Linked DNA regions of Homo sapiens: regions 1 and 3 are each linked to region 2. The links come from fine-mapping of genetic effects on gene expression. A gene starts in region 2. Each other region holds a variant in brackets. All regions are shown on one strand. Distances are from middle to middle. Region 1 has its middle 100 kb from the start of LINC02084. Region 2 holds the start of SLC4A7 (solute carrier family 4 member 7). Region 3 has its middle 75 kb from the start of SLC4A7.

Region 1 (7,103 bases), 120 kb after region 2:
GTGGCATATGCCTGTAGCTCCAGCTACTAAGGAGGCTGAAGCAGGAGAATCGCTTGAACCCGGGAGGAGGAGGTTGCAGTGAGCCGAAATTGCGCCACTGCACTCCAGACTGGGCGACAGAGAGAGACTGTCTCAAAACAAACAAACAAACAAACAAACAAACAAACAAACAAAAAACCCCAAAAAACTCCGATCCCCGAATTCTCGAGGAGACTGATTTGAGTAATAAAAACTCCAGTTTCCTGTACAACCAGCTCTGTGTGAATTAAACTCTTTCTGTATTGCAATTCCTCTCTCTCCATAAATCAGCTCTGTCTAGGCAGCGGGCAAGGAGAACCCATTGGGCAGCTACACTCCCACCTCAACCTCTGGAGTAGTTGGGACCACAGGCGTGCACCACCATGCCTGGCTAATTTGTAGAGACAGATTTTTGCCATGTTGCCCAGGCTGGTCTTGAACTCCTGGGCTCAAGGGATCCTCCCAACTCAGCCTCCCAAAGTGCTGAGATTACAGATGTGAGCCACCGTGCCTGGCCTCTTTGAACAATTTTAAATGCTGACGATATAGGGGTCACAAGAATTATGAGATAAAGCACAAGAATTATGAGAGCATATTCAGATTCAGAGCTAAAAAATGCAGCAATTGATTAGTAATGTCTGACATGGTGGGTAAGGTATGTGTGTGTGTGGAGAGGATGGTTGAATAGCAATACACACGTCAAATATTGGTTACCCTGACTGAGGCACTTGGAACTGTACTTATTTTCCATGAAAGCACATATCTGATGTGGAACCATGCTCAACTTCCTGTTAAGCTGAAGTTTGTACCCTGGGACCTGTGAACAAAATCTAGGCATGGGTAGCATGAATTCTAGAGGTCTATAGATGGAGCACGCACACTCCATATCTCACATTCACCAATTTCCCCAATCACACTTTTTCTCTGCCTGATATTTGTTTGCTTTTCACTATCTAATTATTATTTCATTTTGCAGACTGGAAATTTCTGTACACTTCTGGATGTACCTTACCTAGGGAAATGCAAGGCCTAGCAGAGTGCTCCATATACAGAGTGGATATTCAATAAATGCTTGCTAAAATGAATTGAGTTCTGCTTTTCATAAATAACAGTGTATTCCTCAGACAATAGATTAGTAATCATCTATCAGACAACAGTTGGTAAGACTATTTGAATGTGGGCAGACCTAGGTGTGTGCTTTAGCTCTACCTTTTACTAGCTGTGTATAGGTAAGTTAACTGATGTCTCAGTTTTCTTATCAGTAAAATGGAAATCATAATACCTCAAAAGATGTTGTAAGTTGTAAGGCTTGAATGGGTTAGCATATGTAAAACATAAGCGGCACTAAATATTGTAGTTCCTTTTTCTTTACTCTCAATATTTGTCAAAAACTAAAACTAGTAAAAGAGTAGTAAAATGGACATTTGTTGACTCTCTCCCACTGGGTAGCAGCTATGTGCTTTGGCATGCAGAAAATTGACTCCACCTCCAGCTCCATGGGTGGGCCATGTTTGTTTAATCCTGTCTCAACCCCTTTGCTAAAGAGATTGGTTGTTGGTTTGGGTTAATCAACACTTGGCATTTCCCCACTGCAGGAAATTATTCAGGAACTGGCATGTGACCAAATTATGAACAATGACACATGAGAATTTAATTTTCTGGGAGCTTTTGGGGAATAAATTTCCATGTTTGTTTTGTTATTTTGTTATTTATTTATTTTTTTGAGACAGAGTCTCACACTGTTGCCCGCCTGGAGTACAGTGGTATGATCTTGGCTCGCTGCAGCCTCCACCTCCCGGGTTCAAGTGATTCTCCTGCCTCAGCCTCCCAAGTTGCTGGGATTACAGATGCCTGCTACCACGCCAGGCTAAGTTTTTGTATTTTTAGTAGAGACAGGTTTCAGTATGTTGGCCAGGCTGGTCTGGAACTCCTGACCTCGTGATCTGCCCACCTTGGCCTCCCAAAGTGCTGGGATTACAGGCGTGAGCCACTGCTCCTGGCCTAAATATTTGTGTTTCATTTAGGACTTTTTTTTTTTTTTGAGATGGAGTCCTGCTCTGTCGCCCAGGCTGGAGTGCAATGGTGCGATCTCGACTCACTGCAACTTATGCCTCCTGAGTTCAAGTGATTCTCCTGCCTCAGCCTCCTGAGTAGCTGGGATTACAGGTGCGCACCACCATGCCCAGCTATTTTTTTTTTTTTGTATTTTTAGTAGAGATGGGGTTTCACCATATTGGCCAAGCTGGTCTCGAACTCCTGACCTCGTGATCCACCCACCTCAGCCTCCCAGAATGCTGGGATTACAGGCGTGAGCCACTGTGCCTGGCTTATTTCTTCTCTCTCCCTGAATATGGAAGTCAGGAAGTATGAAGGATTGGTGGCAACCAGAGACCAAGGAAAAGCTTCCCCTTTGCCTTCTGAACCTTTGCAGAAAATCACGGACAAGAGGCAGATTAATAGGAGAAAAATCATACAAATTCATTTAATAAAAATTTTATGTGACATGGGAGCCTTCAGAATGAAGACCCAAAGGTACAGGGGAGACTGTCCATTTTTGTGCTTAGGTTAAAAAAAGTATGCACAGCCATGTAGAAATATGACTGGACAAAATGGATAAGATCTAATGCTGGGCTGGGCGCATGGCTCACGCCTGTAATCCCAGCACTTTGGGAGGCCAAGGCGGGTGGATCACCTGAGGTCAGGAGTTCAAGACCAGCCTGGCCAACACGGCGAAACCCCGTGTTTACTAAAAATACAAAAATTAGCTGGGCATGGTGGTGCATGCCTGTAATCCCAGCCCAGCTACTTGGGAGGCTAAGGCACGAGAATCACTTGAACCCCGGGAGGCAAAGTTTGCAGTGAGCCGAGATTGAGCCACTTCTCTCCAGCGTGGGCGAAACAGCAAAATTCTATCACACTATATATATATATATAATATAAATAAAATTAAAAATAAATAAGAATGAGGAGAAGGATAAAAACATTTAAAAGATGAGAGCAGAATAGAAGGAGTGAAACAGTGGGTAAATGAAGACGGATTCAATAGAAAGCCAGCAGCAAGGCGAGGGATGCTTTGAATGACCCTAGAAGCAAATTTAACTGGATTTAGACTGGCCCAGGACCAGCCCTAAGAACGGAATGTAATCTTGGTTTCTATATTATTTCCTGCATTAGACCACAGACATTATTGGGTTTGAGATTAAAGTGCCTTAAACAATGCAGGTGATATCAAGACTCACTTAAGCAAAGGTGATTCAGGTTTCAGTGCTGGTTTACAGTAGCATCAAGGTCTCAGTTTATTTCCATTAGGCCCTTTGTCAGGTCCATTTTATGGTTGTGTAGACCCACAAAAAAACAATACCTCAAAATGAAGGCCTCAGAGGCAGCTCTCTCTCTCTCTCTCTCTCTTTCTCCCACCCTCCTGTCTCTGGCCCCTCAATCTCCCCAATGGCTACCCGTAGAAACTGGAGTCCCTCTTCCCCAAGGACAGTCATAGAAACCAGAACCCCTTTTCCCCAAAGCCAGACATAAAACCTAAAAATATTACTCGAACTTCTTTCCCACCTCCCCTGCCTTTCTGTGTAAAATCTGGCCATAAAGAAATTGTAGGTCATAATACCCCCATTCCAGAGAGGATCCCGCCCCATACCCAGAAAGAAGGAATCCATGCTCAGAGAGGCCAAGAAGAATCTAGACAGACAGGCCTTGCTGGGTTTCCCCACTCAGTCCATTAACATTAGAT[C/CT]TTTTTTTTTTTTTTTGAGACAAAGTTTCGCTCTTGTTGCCCAGGCTGGAACGCAATGGTGCCATCTTGGCTCACTGCAACCTCCACCTCCTGGTTCACGTGATTCTCCTGCCTCAGCCTCCTAAGTAGCTGGGATTACAGGCCTCCTCACTCTTATTTAAAAGCATGCCTTCTCAACATAGTCTCAGTTGAGGAAAACAGGGAATACTGATTCACACTGAAGTATTGGTGACTGATGTATTTCCCATGTAGTGGAAGTGAAGCTGTAACACCATTCAGTGATCCTGGTAATGGTGTGGTATCTGAAATTGTCTACAGCAAATCAATGGACAATGATGCTCTTGAACCTTCTCACATCAGATTGTGAAAATAGCTACCATTTACACCTCCATCGTCAATGTGTTTACCACTCTCCCTCCTTTAGTTTTTATCTGAGGCCTGCTGTAGGACAGTTTCTGGAATAAAGCCATAGCATCTCCATCCTATTGAGATCATGGGGACTATAAGTAACAAAGGAAGTGAGCAACTGGAAGGCATCCCATCATTAAATATTCAAGAGTCAGAGGATATCTGATCGTGCCACATCATAAAGTCTCTGCCCTTCAGAAGTCTGTGAGATCACAGTGGGGTACGCCAGAGGGATGAGATAAACACAGCCACTAGACCCTCACTCTTTACATTTGACCCACTCACCTCTCCTGGAAGGCCCTGATACATTAGATAGAATGGCTGTGAATTTTAACTTCCTGGCCCTCCACAATGTCCCTCACTGTCACATTTTTACCTCCATAGGACCAGCCCCTGCTTTCTTTTTTTCTCTCTTTGCCTACTTAGAGAGTCTAACTCCTTGGTCAACTACAGTTAAATTTTTACTTTCTAGGGATGGATTCTTGTTCCAGGAAAATGTACAAAATTTGATACATAATTTAAATCCCTGAAGTCTTCATATCTTGAGGAACTTAGGACCTAGTCATATCCGCTTCTCTAGGCTGAGCCTCCTGCTTTGACCAGGCCCTATCAATTCTGTCTACACATTTTGGGTAGGTTCCCAAATCCTACCAAGTAAACCCCCAAATGGGTTCTGTTTCACATCAACTACGTACCCAAAAGGCATCAGATTCCATCATAGCTTTGTTGGCATCTAACATATGACTGTCTTAGAAAAAAAAAAACCCTTTATTTCCTGTGCTGTGTGCTTTGCATAGGCCTTGGGACTAAGACCACATGTCTTTGAGCCTGTGTTCTCAGGCTACCTTCTTGGTCAGGAAATCTTTTTACAGTTTATGGAAATCACTCTTGCTACCACTTCAAGACTGATTTTCTTTTTGACTGTCTTCCCCCAAATCTTTATAATTGCATAGTGTGAGCGAGTGAGGACTGTGGCTTATCGCAGCCTTGCAGTGAAGGCAGAAGAAGCTACTGCAGAAAGCTGCAGAATCTATTTGATAATGAAAAATCCAGATCCGGACAGATGGATGTTATATTTGGAGGAAACGCCATCACATGACCAAGGTTCCCGCTCTAAGGAGAGAACATACAGATGTTCACATACCAGAGAAGTCATGGCACTTCCAGAGGGATAAAGCAGCACTTTATTATTTTTCTTCATTCACAATCTTAAAGCTATAGAGAAAACCCAAGCAACATTAGGGTTCTGAATCAAAACGAAATGAGACTCAGTTGCAAGGAAACAAGCTTATCTGTATCCTAAATTGCAGTAAGTGTCTTTTTGTTTACTCATTTTACAACCATGCATAGAAAATGACACGTACATAGAAAAGGACACTTTTTCTATGCATGATTGTAAAATGCATAGGAAGAGGCAGCAGGCAGGGAGAGAACGGTGTTTATTCAGTTCTTGTTTAAAATGACCTTTATCTTTAGGGGAAGCTAACACTGGGTTCCGTATTATTATGATGTTACCGTGATTTCAACAGAGCATTTCACACCTACTAAGAAGCTCTAGTATTTAAACGTGTTTGAGTAAAAACAGTATTTTTCCTTCCCTGCATTCCTTTCTTCCTTCTGGCTTTCCTCTTTTCCTTCCTTCCTTCCTTCCTCCTTGCATCCTTGGCCGAGAAACATTAGGTGTCACAGCAGGACCTAGGGGGATTCTACCAAGATTAAACTCATTTGTATCAATATTTGGGCTGGGCGTGGTGGCTCATGCCTGTAATCCCAGCACTTTGGGAGGCTGAGGTGGGCGGATCAGACCTGAGGTCAGGAGTTTGAGACCAGCCTGACCAACATGGTGAAACCTCGTCTCTACTAAAAATGCAAAGTTAGCTGGGCATGGTGGCACACACCTGTAATCCCAGCTACTCAGGAGGTTGAGGCATGAGAATTGCTTGAACCTGGGAGGCAGAAGTTGTAGTGAGCCAAGATTGAGCCACTGCACTCCAGCCTGGGTGACAAAGTGAGATTCCATCTCAAAAAAAAAAAATTATACCAATATTTGTTGGTTATCTGCTCTGTACAGGGGCAGGTCCTATGCACACAAAAGGATGAAATAAATATATATCCACCCTTAAGAATCTTGAAGTTTAAGAAGGACAAAATCAACTGGGCATGGTGGCTCATGCCTTTAAGTCCAGCACTTTGAGAGGTTGAGGTGGAAGGATCACTGGAGCACACAAATTAAAGAACAGCCTGGGCAATACAGTGAGATTTCATCCTACCAAAAAAATTAAAAATTAGCCAAGCATGGTGGTGCACTTGTAGTCTCAGCTACTTAGGATGCTGGATTGGGAGAATCACTTGAGCCCAAAGCTAGAGGTTACAGTGAACCAAAGATCATGACACTCTAGCCTGGGCCACAGAGCAAGACCCTATCTCAAAAAAAAAAAAAAATAATAATAATAAAAGGCTAGGTGTGGTGGCTCACACCTGTAATCCCAGCACTTTGGGAGGGTGAGGCGGGTGGATCACAAGGTCAAGAGATCAAGACCATCCTGGCTAACACGGTGAAACCCCATCTCTACTAAAAACACAAAAACAAAAAATTAGCTGGGCGTGGTGGCAGGCGCCTGTAGTCCCAGCTATTGGGGAGGCTGAGGGAGGAGAATGGCATGAACCCAGGAGGCAGAGCTTGCAGTGAGCCGAGATTGCGCCACTGCACTCCAGCCTGGGTGACACAGGGAGACTCCATCTCAAAACAAAAGAAAACAAAATAATAAAAACCCAAAACCAAAAAACAAAAACAAGAAAACAGATCACAAATTACTGCAGTATAAAGGAGAGCAATAAAAATGTGACCATTGGCCCGGCACGGTGGCTCACGCCTGTAATCCCAGCACTTTGGGAGGCCGAGGCAGGCGGATCATGAGGTCAGGAGATCGAGACC
Region 2 (6,921 bases):
AATAATAGTTTAAATAGCATAAACACTAGTCTAAATAAGTGTTATTACAATGAATGAATGAATAACTTGGAGGGCAATGGCCTTATCACATGCTTTCTCTACTAGCTAGGCAGGCAATATTTGAGAACACACCATAGTTTCTATCCAGCTCCGTGAAAACTCGAATGCACTTTACTGCTCAATTGAAAATTTGCAAATAAATTTAAGAACAGACAACATCATACTTGAAATACACAGAGAAAGTACTATAAAACAGTTTATTCAAAGGCTACACAAAGAATTACAGAAGGCCAGGCGCGGTGGCTCACGCCTGTAATCCTAGCACTTTGGGAGGCCGAGGCGGGTGGATTGCCTGAGGTCAGGAGTTCCAGACCAGCCTGGACAACATGGCAAAACCCCGTCTCTACTAAAAATACAAAAAATTAGCTGGGCATAGTGGTGCGTGCCTGTAATTCCTGCTACTCCGGAGGCTGAGGCGGGAGAATCGGTTGAACCTGGGAGGAGGAGGTTGCAGTGAGCCGAGATCGCACCACTGCATTCCAGCCTGGGCGACAGAGCGAGACTCTGTCTCAAAATAATAATAATAATAATTACAGATTATTTAGGATGAGTTTCCAGTATTCCATTACCATCACTGTGAATTATCTTCCAATAACCACTGCTAAATGACTTCACTGTCTGGTGACTGAGTTTTCTTCTATGTTAGAGAACTTATATGAACGTACTGAACTAATGAATGACTACTTTCCATAACCTTAACTATAATCCTAAAAGTTAAAAGGGAAAGCCGGCAGGCAGTTTTAAAGACAACTCTTGAATAAAAACATAGGAGAAGTAATTTTCCTCTTAGTTGTGAAAGACCGGACAATTTTCCCTGCAACCTTCCCGCCTTTGCTGGTTGCATAGTAAAAATTAGAAGTAGGAAAATTTAGAATACTTCCATCTCCTTTGAGTCACGAACTTGGAAAGGAGAAAGAGACAACTGCGGGGACGCATGTGCTCTAAAGAAAGCAGGAAGTCCGCTTCTTGAGCATGGGCCGTTCACCCATCATCACAAATGGGAACACCGGCCTTAAGTCCATCCCCATTCTCTTCTAACCCTGAAATCAAAGCCAGTCTCAGTAGGAAACGCGATCTTGCTAGCTGAGTTAGAGAAGGAGCACCAGACAGCTCAGGACACCCTCCTCCTTCTACTTGGCCTGCGGCAGGAGGATACTCCCCGGGTCCCAGCCAGTGGAGAAGGCGGACCCGGCAGGCAACAGCGAAAGAGCCTTGGCCGGGAAGGAGCGCGGCCAGTCCACGCGGCCGGAGAACTCACCGAACAAAGCGCACCGCGGAGCGGGAGGGGACACTCGGAAAGAGGGGGAAAGATTCAACCAGCTCTTCACCACTGCCTGGGGCTAGAGACAGGTGGAGCCGCCGTCCTCCTTAGAAGGAGAAGAAAGATAGGTTTTCGAGGGCTAATCTGAAACTCCTGCGCCAAGGCAACCGGAACCGGGACCCCGCCTGGGGAGCGCGCTAAGAAACAGGGGAGGCGAGCGCTGAGGGAAGGGATGGATGGTCGGGGTCACAGGCGGCCTCTGCGGGGATGTCGGGGTCCCGCCTGAGCCGCGCAGAGGATGCCCGCGGCGCGCCGCCGGCCGCCCCGACTCGGGCCTCCCGAGCGCAGCCGCTGGCCCCCTCCCACCCGCGCCCCAGGCCGCCACACAAAGGGGATGGCGAGGCGCGCCGGCCGCCGGGAGGTGGAGGGGCGACGGGCCTGGGACGAGGTGGCCGAGCCGCGACGCCCGCCGCGCCCCCCGCCTTTGTCTGCCTCGCCCCGCGCCCTCCCCCTGCGGAGGAGCCCCACCGCCGCGGCGCCCTCACCCTGCTCGTTACCCGGGTGAGTAGCGGTCTCATCTGCTCGCCGGCCCCATCAGCCTCCATGGCCGGCCGGCCAGCCCGTGACGGCCGCTACGGTACTGCCCCGCGCGGTCTGCCTGCTTCTGCCGCTGCCCCTGCCGCCGCCGCCGAGCCCCCGGCGCGCGAGGACAAACGTGGGTGCGTCCGTGCGCGAGGTGTGCGCGCGTGGGGAGAGCCGGGCGCCGGGCGCGGGAGACGCGGGGCGTGCGTGTGCGCGCTGCGACTGCTGGGCTGGCTTTAGTAGGAGAGCGAGGCCGCGGCGTGGAACCTGAAGCTAGAACTGAGCGAACCGGCGGACCGAGCGGGAAGGAGGAGAGCCGCGTAGGAGGAGGGGTTCGGGGGCGGAGCCGCAAACCGTGACGAGCCCGGCGCCGGGGCCAGGCAAGACACGCCCCCCCGCCCCGCCTCCTCGGGTCACGCCCCCTGCCAGTCTGGCACCGCCAGCCTCCTCAGCGCGCCCGCGGGCCGCGCCGCTAGGCCACCGGGAGATGGGGCGGGAGGGAGGCGGGACGGACATTTGTCCCAGCCAATCGGCGGCTGGCGGACTTCCGCTCGCCTCCCCCGTGCCACCTCCTCAGGACGCACCGCCCCTCTTTGTATAAGCTTAATTGACCGAAGCTGAGCGTCTAACTAGTTTTTCAAGTCGGAAGCTCCCCTGACGTTCTCAATGGGGTGGGGGGTCACCACCTCCCTTGGCTCCTAACTACATTCTTTAGAGGCTGCAGGGAAGGAGGACGCCACCTCTGTCAAGGACGCCCAGGATAACCCTCCGAAGCAACTAACGAGTCTTCACGACTCCTGGAAGTTTCTTTTCTGTCAATCCAGTAGGCACGAACCCCAACTCAGGGACCGTGAAAGATGGGGTACACTTGACCAGGTGTCCTCCTGTGCTTGCTCGCCCACTGAGCACCACGACAGCTGCCACTTTTTTTTTTTTTTTTTTTTTTTTTGAGACAGAGTCTTGCACCAGCCCAGGTTGGAGTGCAATGGCATGATCTCGGCTCACTGCAACCTCCGCTGCCTGGGTTCAAGCTATTCTCCTGCCTCAGCCTCCTGAGTAGCTGGGACTACAGACGCGCGCCACCACGCCCGGCAACTTTTTGTATTTTTAGTAGAGACGGGGTTTCACCATGTTGGTTAGGCTGGTCTCGAACTCCTGAGCTAAGGTGATCCACCAGCCTCAGCCTCCCAAAGTGCTGGGATTACAGGCATGAGCCACCACACCCGGCCAGCTGCCACATTATTGAGTCCACCCTGTAGGCCGTCTCTCAAATATCCCTTCTGTAACGGGATGATTGTAATACCTGCCATGCAGGCTCATTGAAGGATTAAGGGGATTTATATTCATAAAAGTGCCTGGCACATAGCATGCTGATAATTTTCATTATTGTTAACAGGTTTCTCTTGAGTGTTTCATAAAGATGAGAAATTTGGCCGGGCGCGGTGGCTTACGCCTGTAATTACAGCAGTTTGGGAGGCCGAGGCGGGCGGATCACCTGAGATCAGGAGTTCGAGACCAGCCTGACCAACATGACGAAACCCCGTGTCTACTAAAAATACAAAAATTAGCCAGGCATGGTGGCAGGCACCTGTAATCCCAGCTACTCAGGAGGCTGAGGCAGGAGAATCGCTTGAACCCAGGAGGCAGAGGTTGCAGTGAGCTGAGATCACGCCACTGCACTCCAGCCTGGGTGACAGAGCTAGACCCTGTCTCAAAAAAATAAAAAATAAAATAAAAAAAGATAAGGAGAGGTTTAGTTGGGAAGAACTGAAGCCATGCAATGGAAGGATATATAAATACATCAGCGGATCCAGAGCTCACATCCTATTCATCTCCAACTGGGTATTAGTAAAGCTTTTTGTCAGCAATAGGTAGCTAGGTATGCTGGATGACTCATTCCTTCTTTGGGCCCTAGTCCCCTTTTGTCCTAAATTTCCCAGAGAGTTACTTCCAGTCCAGCACACATTGTTCACTTACTTGTACAAGAGCAGATGTGCCTCTATTAATAGCTACTATGTAAAGAGGCCTACAATTAGAGACTGTGACATTTGGCAAACATATTTCATTTCTAATCCTCTCAATACTGCAAAATATCTGCCGTCATCTTTTTCTTCGGCAAGGCAACTGAGCTGCAGACGCAGAGACGCAGATCTTTGTGAAGACCCTCACGGGCAAGACCATCACTCTTGACGTCAAGCCAAGTGACACCATTGAGAATGTCAAAGCCAAAATTCAAGACAAGGAGGTATCCCACCTGACCAGCAGCATCTGATACTTGCTGGCAAACAGCTGGAGGATGGCCGAACTCTCTCAGACTGCAACATCTGGAAAGAGTCCACCCTGCACCTGGTGCTGCGCCTGTAAGGTGGCATTATTGAGCCTTCCCTCTGCCAGCTCTCCCAGAAATACAACTGTGACAAGATGATCTGCCGCAAGTGCTATGCTTGCCTGCACCCCCGTGCTGTCAACTGCTGCAAGAGGTGTGACCACACCAACAACCTGTAACCCAAGAAGGTCAAGGCTCTTCCTTCCTCGAACGGCAGCCTCCCTGGAGCCTCAATAAAGTGTGTCTCTTTCGTTGACTGGAGCAGCAAAAACAAACAAACAAAAAAACAATACTACAAAATATGTTATAGCTCCATTTTACAGATGAGGAAGCTGAAGCCCATAGAAATACTGGTTTTGAGTTCTGGTGAGTGGAACTGCTCTTACTATTGGCACCATTCTTTTTTATTTATTTATTTTTGAGATGGAGTCTCACTCTGTTGCCCAGGCTGGAGTACAGTGGCACAATCTCGGCTCACTGCAACCTCCATCCTCCAGGTTCAAGCAATTCTCCTGCCTCAGCCTCCAGAGTAGCTGGGATTACAGGCGCCCGCCACCACACCTAGCTAATTTTTTGTATTTTTAGTAGAGATGGGGTTTCACCATGTTGGCCAGGCTGGTCTAGAACTCCTGACCTCCAGTGATCCACCTGCCTCGGCCTCCCAAAGTGCTGAGATTACAGGTGTGAGCCACCGCATCTGGCTATAACATTCTATATATTTTATGATTTATTATGCTTATTGTCTACACACACACACACACACACACACGCACAAATGTGAGCTCCATGTAAGCTTCATGTGTACAGCAAATTTGGTTTTTGGTTTTTGGTTTTTTCTCAGATATCCCTATGCCTACGTGAGTGTTTGGCCCCTGTAAACTCTCAGCACATGTGTTAAATGAGTAAATGTACAGGTGGGGCATACATCTGCTCTTCTTAAGATCTAAGAGCATCTTAGGTGACAGCTGAGCATGTGGCCATAGTAACAAGAACAAAGTAGGAGTCAAGAATCATGGTGCCAGAGTTGAAAGTGTTAAATAGTCAGCTTCAAGAAGGTCTTAAAAATGTATGCTTGGCAGACCTTGCTAAACAATGAATTTCTGTTCATCTATCTTGCAAGAAGAAAAAATTATTGGTTTATTTAATCCACAAATATTTTTTTAGTGACGTCTTTGTTGCCATGCACTTTTTCCACTCCTCATTTCATCCCAACTGCTAGAAGAGGAATGTAGCAAAGATCTGAATTATTAAATTTATCACTCAGTTGCCCACTTAATTCAACCTCAGCCAAAGTTCATTCAAGAAGATAATGTGTTAAAATTGCTTTTGTGCAACCAGAGATGGCTATAAAGTGTTCCAAGGTGCTGAAAGGTAAATTGTATTCTTGAATATTTTAAATATTCATCTGGGGCCAGGTGCAGTGGCTCATGCTTGTAATCCCAACACTTTGGGAGGCCAAGGCAAGTGGATCACCTGAGGTCAGGAGTTTGAGACCAGCCTGGCCAACACGGTGAAACCCTATATCTACTAAAAATACAAAAATTAGCTGGGCATGGTGGCAGGCACCTATAGTCACAGCTACTCAGGAGGCTGAGACAGGAGAATTGTTTGAACCCCGGAGGCCAAGGTTGCAGTGAGCCAAGATCACGCCATTGCACCCCAGCCTGGGGCACAGGTCCAGACTCCGTTTCAAAAAAAAAAAATTAATTTGAAATATGGCACAGGGAAACATTTGCTAAACAAAGGTAAATGTAAACCTAAATTCATCAGTAGCAATGAAGTGGTAGTACCTAAAGTTAATGAGTTTTAGCTGTATCCTAAATTCAGAATACTTCCTGAGTATCTGGAGCAGTAGATAATCCTAAAAACCCCTTGGCAAGATCCCCATCCTGAGGAGTGAACGGTCTTCCCAAGAACAATTCTCTATAGGCCAAGGTATAGTTTATAAAGACAGAGAGCAGCTTCTTTGGTATTTTGAAAAGTGTGAAACCATTCTTTTTTTTTTTTTTTTGAGGCGGAGTTTCACTCTTGCTGTCCAGGCTGGAGTGCAATGGTGCAATCTCGGCTCACTGCAACCTCTGCCTCCCTGGTTCAAGCAATCCTCCTGCCTCAACCTCCCAAGTAGCTAGGATTACAGGCACGTACCACCATGCCTGGCTAATTTTGTATTTTTTAGTAGAGACGGGGTTTCTCCATGTTGGTCAGGCTGGTCTCAAACTCCTGACAACATCAGGTGATCTGCCCACCTCAGCCTCCCAAAGTGCTGGGATTACAGGTGTGAGCCACCGCACCTGGCCACGTGAAACCATTCTTAACTTTTAGCAGAGGGTTCTTTGGCAATTATATGTATCTTCATTGCCTCTTCTTGGTTATAGCTAATATTTAAAGGTTTTCTATCATCTGATCCTATAAGGAAAAGTAAAATCATTGGAATAGTGTTTTCAAGAGTACCAGAACAGCCTCAACGGGACAAAGACACAAGGAAAATTACTTCATTGTTCTTTATTTCTATAGGCTAGGCATACAGATAAATATTCAAAAGATGAGGAAATAAAAACAAAAACAGAACTTGTCCCTGATCTCATGGAGTTCAGAGTGCAAAACACCAATATATAAACAACTGTCAACAATGCAATGCATGTAGTTCTGAGTCCACCACGCTCAGCCAAAAGCCTCCTTTTAGAAGATGTTT
Region 3 (7,103 bases), 74 kb after region 2:
GGGCTCAAAAACCAAAATACCAACATATGGCATTTTGACATGCTAAATTAAAAAAGTCTCAAGGTCTCTCTGATCTCCCTCCCTCCCTCCCACCCCCCACCACCTCTCCCAGAATCTTTATCTGCTTAAGATCCAAACCCACCAAAAGGAACAATTGTTTTTCTTCCCCTTCCAGTAAGACCAAGAATGTTACCACATCTGAACAGATCCTTTTACCTTCAAAGAGAAATAGATGCAGAACAAATTAATGCCTGTTCCCAGATCTATTAATTCTCCCTTGTAATCCCCTCAACAGAATTTCTCTTCTCCTCCCATAGCCTGTTTTGCGGAGGTGGTATACAAGCTTCTAACCACACTGGAGATGGGCAATTACTCTGAGATACTTCTCATGCATACATTGTACATGTGTTAAGTACATTTGTATGCCTTTTCTCTAGTTAATTTGCCTTTCGTGATTTGACTTTTCAGATAACTCTCAGAAGGCCAAAGAAAAAGCTTTCCCTTGACCCTCACACCTACAATTAATGAAATATTCAGAAACAAAAGGTTTCCTAGCCAGGCACGGTAGCTTACGCCTGTTATCTCAGAACTTTGGGGAGCCAAGGAGGGAGAATTGCTTGAGGCAAGGAGTTCGAGACCAGCCTGGCCAACATAGCAAGACCCCCATCTCTATAAAAAATTTTAAAAATTAGCAGGGCATGATGGCACACTCCTATAGTGCTAGTTACTTGGGAGGCTGAGGAAGGAGGATTGCTTGAGCCCAGGAGTTCAAGATTACAGTTAGCTGTGATCCTGCCACTGTATTCCAGTCGTGTAATGGAGTGAGACCCTGTCTCTAAATAAAAAAAGAAAAAAAAAAGAGGTTTCTCCATAGGAACAAAACAGTAACGTAACTCCATGAATTCTGAAGTGAATCATTGGCCTTCCATAGACCCACCCAAATTTCTTTTCCAACAACTCGAGTTAATATCAGCAACATGAGATCCCAGACTGTGTTCTTTTTATTAGTTTGGAAAGAATGACTAATCCCTGTATTCTATTCTTGGAAACTGTTATTTTCACCAACTTAGGAAGAATGGACTAATACTAATAGTATCTAACATTTATAGCACTTTCACAGTTTACAAAGTCTTCTTCCATATAATCCTCACAGCAGTTCCGAGCCGAAGTGACTTGCCATGGCTCACCTGTAGCTAAGTGGCACAGCTAGGATATAAACACAGGTTTTCTGAATCTGGCCTTCAGTTCTAACTGTGCACTGGACAGGGCATGTAATGGTAGCTGCTGAAACTAATGACATCCATGTTTCAGTGGTGGAACGCAGTAAAGTTGATTCCTCATTCTTGTCACAGCAATATGGGTTGATGGGGCTGGGGATTCTGCTCCATGTAGTCACGCAGAGACTCATGTTCTTTCTACCTGTGCATTAATATCTTCTACATGTGGCCTCCAAAGCTACTAGAGAATGGGAAATAGTGGGAGATCACACATGGGAGCTTTTTATGGGCCAGGCCTGGAAATGGCTCACATCACTTTTGCTCATGTCCTTTGGCCAAAACCCAATCTCAGCAAGGAAGGCCAAGATGTAATTCAACTGTTTTCCCAGATCCACAGCCTTGGGAAAGTAGAACTGAGAACTTTGTCTTTTAGTACTTTAGTTTATCAGGCCTCCGTGAAGTCCCTTCTGCTGAGGAGGCCATGCTGAGCAGTCTCTGGAAGTTTTTTATTTTCCTTCCCATGTGATCCTTTTGCTTCTCTGAGCTCCCAGAACTCCTCTTTCTTTATTCCTCCTACTTTTCAAACCTTTCTCAGAGGCTGTTTTAAGATATATAATGTTATCTTCTTATTTTCTGTAACTTTTCACTTGTGTATTTCTCCCTGACATGAAACATAAACTCTTTAAAAGCAGAATTGTATCTACTATTGCAATACTGTGAGATACATTTCCTCTAGTCACCTTAATCAACCCTCCACTTCATCCAAAGAAATTAAATTCTGCCAAAATTGATGGAGGCTTATTATGTACAAGGTGCTATGCTTGGTGCCATTGGAAGAAGCAAAGAGGAATTAGGAATGGGTCTTTAAAAGCTTGTAAAAAAAAAAGGCTATACGTGAAAGTACAATCAAGAATGTAGAAATACACTGATAAGAAAATATAGTTGGAAGAGGCTGATTCTGAATTGACGGAAAGGGGACTGGAAAAGTTTTCACTGAAGAAATTATAAACATGATAGAAGTAGCTAGCAGTTGTCGAACTTTTCCTATAAGCCAGGCACTGTATTGGAGTGTTTTATATATGTCACACCATGTCATTCTCATAACAATCTTATGAGAGGGCACTGTCATTGTTCCCATTAACCAAATAAGAACAAACATGGGGAGAATTTGCTATAAAGGACGTTTCTGGGTCAATTGGTGAGATGTCAATATGGACTGTAGATTAGATAGATAATCGTATTATTGTATGAATGCTAAATCTCTTGATTTTGATCATTATTTTCTGGTTATATAAGGAATGTCCTTGTTTTTTTTTTTTTTGAGAAGGAGTCTCGCTTTGTTGCCCAGGCTGGAGTGCAGTGGTGTGATCTTGGCTTACTGCAACCTCTGCCTCCCAGGTTCAAGCAATTCTCTGCCTCATCCTCCCAAGTAGCTGGGATTACAGGCGCTCGCCACCACGCCCAGCTAATTTTTGTAATTTTAGTAGAGACTGGGTTTCACCATCTTGGCCAGGCTGGTCTTGAACTCCTGACCTTGTGATCCACCTGCCTCAGCCTCCCAAAGTGCTGGGATTACAGGCATGAGCCATTGCACTTGGCCAGGAATGTCCTTGGTTTTTTTTTTTTTTTTTGGAGGTGGAGTTTCACTCCTGTTGCCCAGCAACCTCTGCCTCCCGGGTTCAAGCCATTCTCCTGCCTCAGCCTCCCGAGTAGCTGGGATTACAGGCATGTGCCACCATGTCCGGCTAATTTTGTATTTTTAGTAGAGACGGGGTTTCTCCATGTTGGTCAGGCTGGTCTTGAACTCCTGACCTCAGGTGATCTGCCTGCCTCGGCCTCCCAAAGTGCTGGCATTACAGGCGTGAGCCACCTTACCCAGCCGAATGTCCTTGTTAATAGGAAATTTACTCTGAAGTATTTAGGAATAAAGGGGCATGATGTCATAAATTTCCTCTCAAATACTTCAGAAAACTGTAATAATTAGATGTGTGTGCATTCATGTGTATGGAGAGAGAGAGAGAGAAGGAAAGAATGATAAAACAAATGCAGCAAAATGTTAACAATTGGTGACATATGGCAGGTTGGGCTGCTATAACAGAATACCACGGACTAGGTGGCTTACACAACAGAAGTCTATTTTTTTTATAGTTCTGGAGGATGGAGGTCCAAGATCAAGGTACAGCATGATCAGGTTCTAATAAGAACTCTCTTCCTGGCTTACAGATGGCTGTCTTCTTACTGTGTTCTCACATGGCAGGGGGGTAGCAAGTTCTCTGGTGCCTCTTCTTCTAAGGGCACTAATTCCATTATGAGACCCAACTCTCATGACCTCATCTAAACCAAATCACCTCCTAAAGGCACCAGGCTAAATACCATCACACTGAGGGTTGGGGCTTTAACATATGAATTGTGGGGAGACACCATTCAGTCCATAGCAGTGAGTGATGGGTATAGTGGAAATTTTGTACTATTTTTGCTACTTCCTGTAAGTTTAGAATTATTTAAAAATAAGAAGGTAAAAGAAAAAAGAAAAAACATTGGCATAAAGTGTTTTACCCAGGTCACGCAGCTGGTGAGTGGTAGGAAATGGTCTTTTCCTATGTTCTTTAGAACCCACTCTCTTAGATGCTGCACGGACACAGATGCTTTGTGACTTCTCATATCCTCTGGCATGGTCCACCTCCTCAATCATACCGCAGCTGAGGACAAACTAGGCCCTCCCCCTTGGCTAGTGCTCTGCAGCTGGATCAAGCAGACGCTCTTCCAGAATGTCTGGCTTCTCCCACTGCTTCCGGATTTGGATGAAATGCTGTGCTGCAGGGCATAGGATCAGATAGGCAAAAGGAAAGAATGATGCAAGCAGGAATGCAAGGTAGTTTCTGCCTGCAGAGCAAACTTTCGCCAATTAGGGCCGTGTGCAGTGGCTCATGCC[T/C]GTTATTCCAGCACTTTGGGAGGCCAAGGTGGGCGGATCACCTGAGGTCAGAAGTTCCAGACCAGACTGGCCAACGTGGCTCTACTAAAAATACAAAAATTAGCTGGGCGTAGTGGTGGGCGCCTGTAATCCCAGCTACTCCGGAGGCTGAGGCAGGAGAATTGTTTGAACTCTGGGAGGCAGAGGTTGCAGTGATCCGAGATCGCGCCATTACACTCCAGCCTGGGTGACAAGGTGAGACTCTGTCTCAAATAAAACAAAACAAAACCGCAACAACAAAAAACACACTTTGGCCAACTGGAAGCGGGAGACAGGGTTTCGTCTACCTTCCTCTCTTCCACGGACAACCTCAATGTGAGAGAAGTTCTGTGTGCTGAGCACGCACCCGCACAACAGAGTAAAACATTACTTTATATTGCAATTTTATATTATTATTGCACTTTATATATTACCTTAATATAGTATTATAATATTATAATTATATAACATTAATATATATTAATATATAATATATACATTATATTATTGCACTTTATATTGCACTTTATATATTACTTTATATTGTGCAATATATTACTTTATATTGTACAACAGAGTAAAACATTACTTTATATTGCTCCACATCTTTTCTTGCCCCACTTCCCCTTTTCCCCATCCCAGCTGCTGTGGGTTTGCACTTCTCAAAGGAAGCATTAGCACTTTAATCCCTGCCTTGGGCTCTGTTTTCTAGAGTACTAGGGCTAATTAGAGAAAAAAAAAAAAAAAAAAAAAAAGGGCCGGGCACGGTGGCTCCTGCCTGTAATCCCAGCACTTTGGGAGGCCGAGGGGAGGCGGGCGGATCACGAGGTCAGGAGATCGAGACCATCCTCGCTAACATGGTGAAACACCATCTCTACCAAAAACACAAAAAATTAGCCGGGCGTGGTGGCAGGCGCCTGTAGTCCCAGCTATTCAGGAGGCTGAGGCAGGAGAATGGCGTGAACCTGGGAGGCGGAGCTTGCAGTGAGCTGAGATTGGGCCACTGCACTCCAGCCTGGGTGACAGAGCAAGACTCTGTCTCAAAAAAAAAAAAAAAAAAAAAAAAGGCCGAGCACGGAGGCTCACGCCTGTAATCCCAGCGCTTTGGGAGGCCGAGGTAGATGGATCACCAGGTCAGGAGATCGAGACCATCATGGCCAACATGGTGAAACCCCGTCTCTACTAAAAATATGAAAATTAGCCGGATGTTGTGGTGCGTGCCTGTAGTCCCACATATTCAGGAGGCTGAGGTACGAGAATCAGTTGAACCCAGGAGGCGGAGGTTGCAGTGAGAATTGCACTCCAGCCTGATGACAGAGTGAGACACTCCGTCTCAAAAAAAAAAAAAAAGAAAAGACTATGCTGTACTGCCCCTAATTTGAGCTGAGTCCTAAAGACAGGTAATATTTTGACAGCCAGAAATTTGAGAGAAAGGCAATACAAAAAGAAGGAATGGCTTTATTTATTTTTGAGACAGCATCTCGCTTTGTCATCCAGGCTGGAGTACAGTGGCATGATCATGGCTCATCACAGCCTCACACTCCTGAGCTTAAGCAATCCTCCCACTTCAGCCTCTTGAGTAGCTGGGACTACAAGCGGGTGCCACCATGCCCAGATGATTTTTTAATTTTTAAAATTTTTTTGTAGAGACAAAATTTGCTATGTTGCCTAGACTGGTCTCGAACTCCTGGCCTCAAGAGAGCTTCCTGCCTTGGCCTTCCAAAATGCTGGGATAACAGGCATGAGCCACAGCCAGGCCAAGAAATAGGAGTGGTCTTAGGTAAAGCATGAGGGATAACAGTAAATGGCTTGCTGAGGCTGTAGTATGGGGCAGGCGGGTGGTAATGGGATACAGGGAATGAATTGAGATGCAATAAGGTTGGGCACGGTGGCTCATGCCTGTAATCCCAGCACTTTGAGAGGCCAAGGCGGGAGGATCACCTGAGGTTGGGAGTTCAAGACAAGTCTGACCAACATGGTGAAACCTCGTCTCTACTAAAAAAATTAGCCGGTTTAGTGGTGAGCGCCTGTAATCCCAGCTACTCAGGAGGCTGAGGCAGGAGAACAGCTTGAACCCAGGAGGCGGAGGTTGTAGTGAGCCAAGATCGCACCATTGCACTCCAGCCTGGGCAACAGAGCAAGACTCTGTCACACACACACACACACACACACACACACACACACACAGATGCATTAAAAGATGATTGGCTTAAATGCCTGCTGTAGAGTTCAGACAACATTCTGTGGGCATTAGTGAGCCATGAGGACTTTTTGAGGTAGGATGAATAAAATAATAATAAGAATGGTGATGACAATAAGTATGAGGATGATAATAGTAGCATTACTAATGAAAACTAATGTTTATTAAATACTTATTAATACTATTTGCTCATCTTTGTACTAAGCATTTTTCATAAATTACTTCCTTTTATTCTATCAATAATCCTATGACATGGGTACTGTTATTATTCCCTAAAGCTTAGAATGGTTAATAAACTTGGTCAACGTTACACGGATTTTGAACCCTAGAATGCCACGCACTTTGCCACCAGAGCTAGTTTTAGGAACATAATTTTGGGAAAAGTGTGAAAGCTAAAGACATTAGAAGTAGGGCTGCTCATAGTCAAAGATTTTTCCAGCTTTTTTTTTTTTTTTAAATAAAAGATAGAAAGAAATGCGAAACACAACTTTCCTTGTCCATATTTATTTTATTTATTTATTTATTTATTTTCTTGAGACAGTGAGGCATGATCTCAGCTCACTGCAACCTCCACCTCCTGAGTTCAAGCAATTCTCCTGCCTCAGCTTCCCGAGTAGCTGGGATTACAGGCATGCGCCACCATGCCCAGCTAATTTTTGTATTTTTAGTAGACACGGGGTTTCACCATGTTGACCAGACTGGTCTCGAACTCCTGGCCTCAGATGATCCACCTGCC

What was found.
Region 1: its variant is fine-mapped to the expression of SLC4A7 in whole blood (INTERVAL, PIP 0.97).
Region 3: its variant is fine-mapped to the expression of SLC4A7 in whole blood (INTERVAL, PIP above 0.99). The same link has a PIP of 0.9 or more in blood mononuclear cells and monocytes.

The regions. Positions count from the first base shown.
Region 1 is chr3:27,606,076-27,613,178 of GRCh38, forward strand. No RefSeq gene overlaps it. Among named protein-coding and RNA genes, the nearest start is that of LINC02084, 100 kb to the right of the region's middle. The variant C/CT (reference allele first, on the strand shown) is at 3,761.
Region 2 is chr3:27,482,201-27,489,121 of GRCh38, forward strand. It overlaps SLC4A7 (solute carrier family 4 member 7), which reads right to left and starts at 2,184. Exons shown (of 26, transcript NM_001321103.2): 1 at 1,867-2,184. The coding sequence starts at 1,926. It also overlaps the pseudogene UBA52P4. RefSeq lists enhancers at 923-982, 1,143-1,352, 1,383-1,442, 1,458-2,234, 2,713-2,842 and silencers at 1,613-1,682, 1,713-2,072, 2,103-2,582.
Region 3 is chr3:27,556,052-27,563,154 of GRCh38, forward strand. No RefSeq gene overlaps it. Among named protein-coding and RNA genes, the nearest start is that of SLC4A7, 75 kb to the left of the region's middle. The variant T/C (reference allele first, on the strand shown) is at 4,150.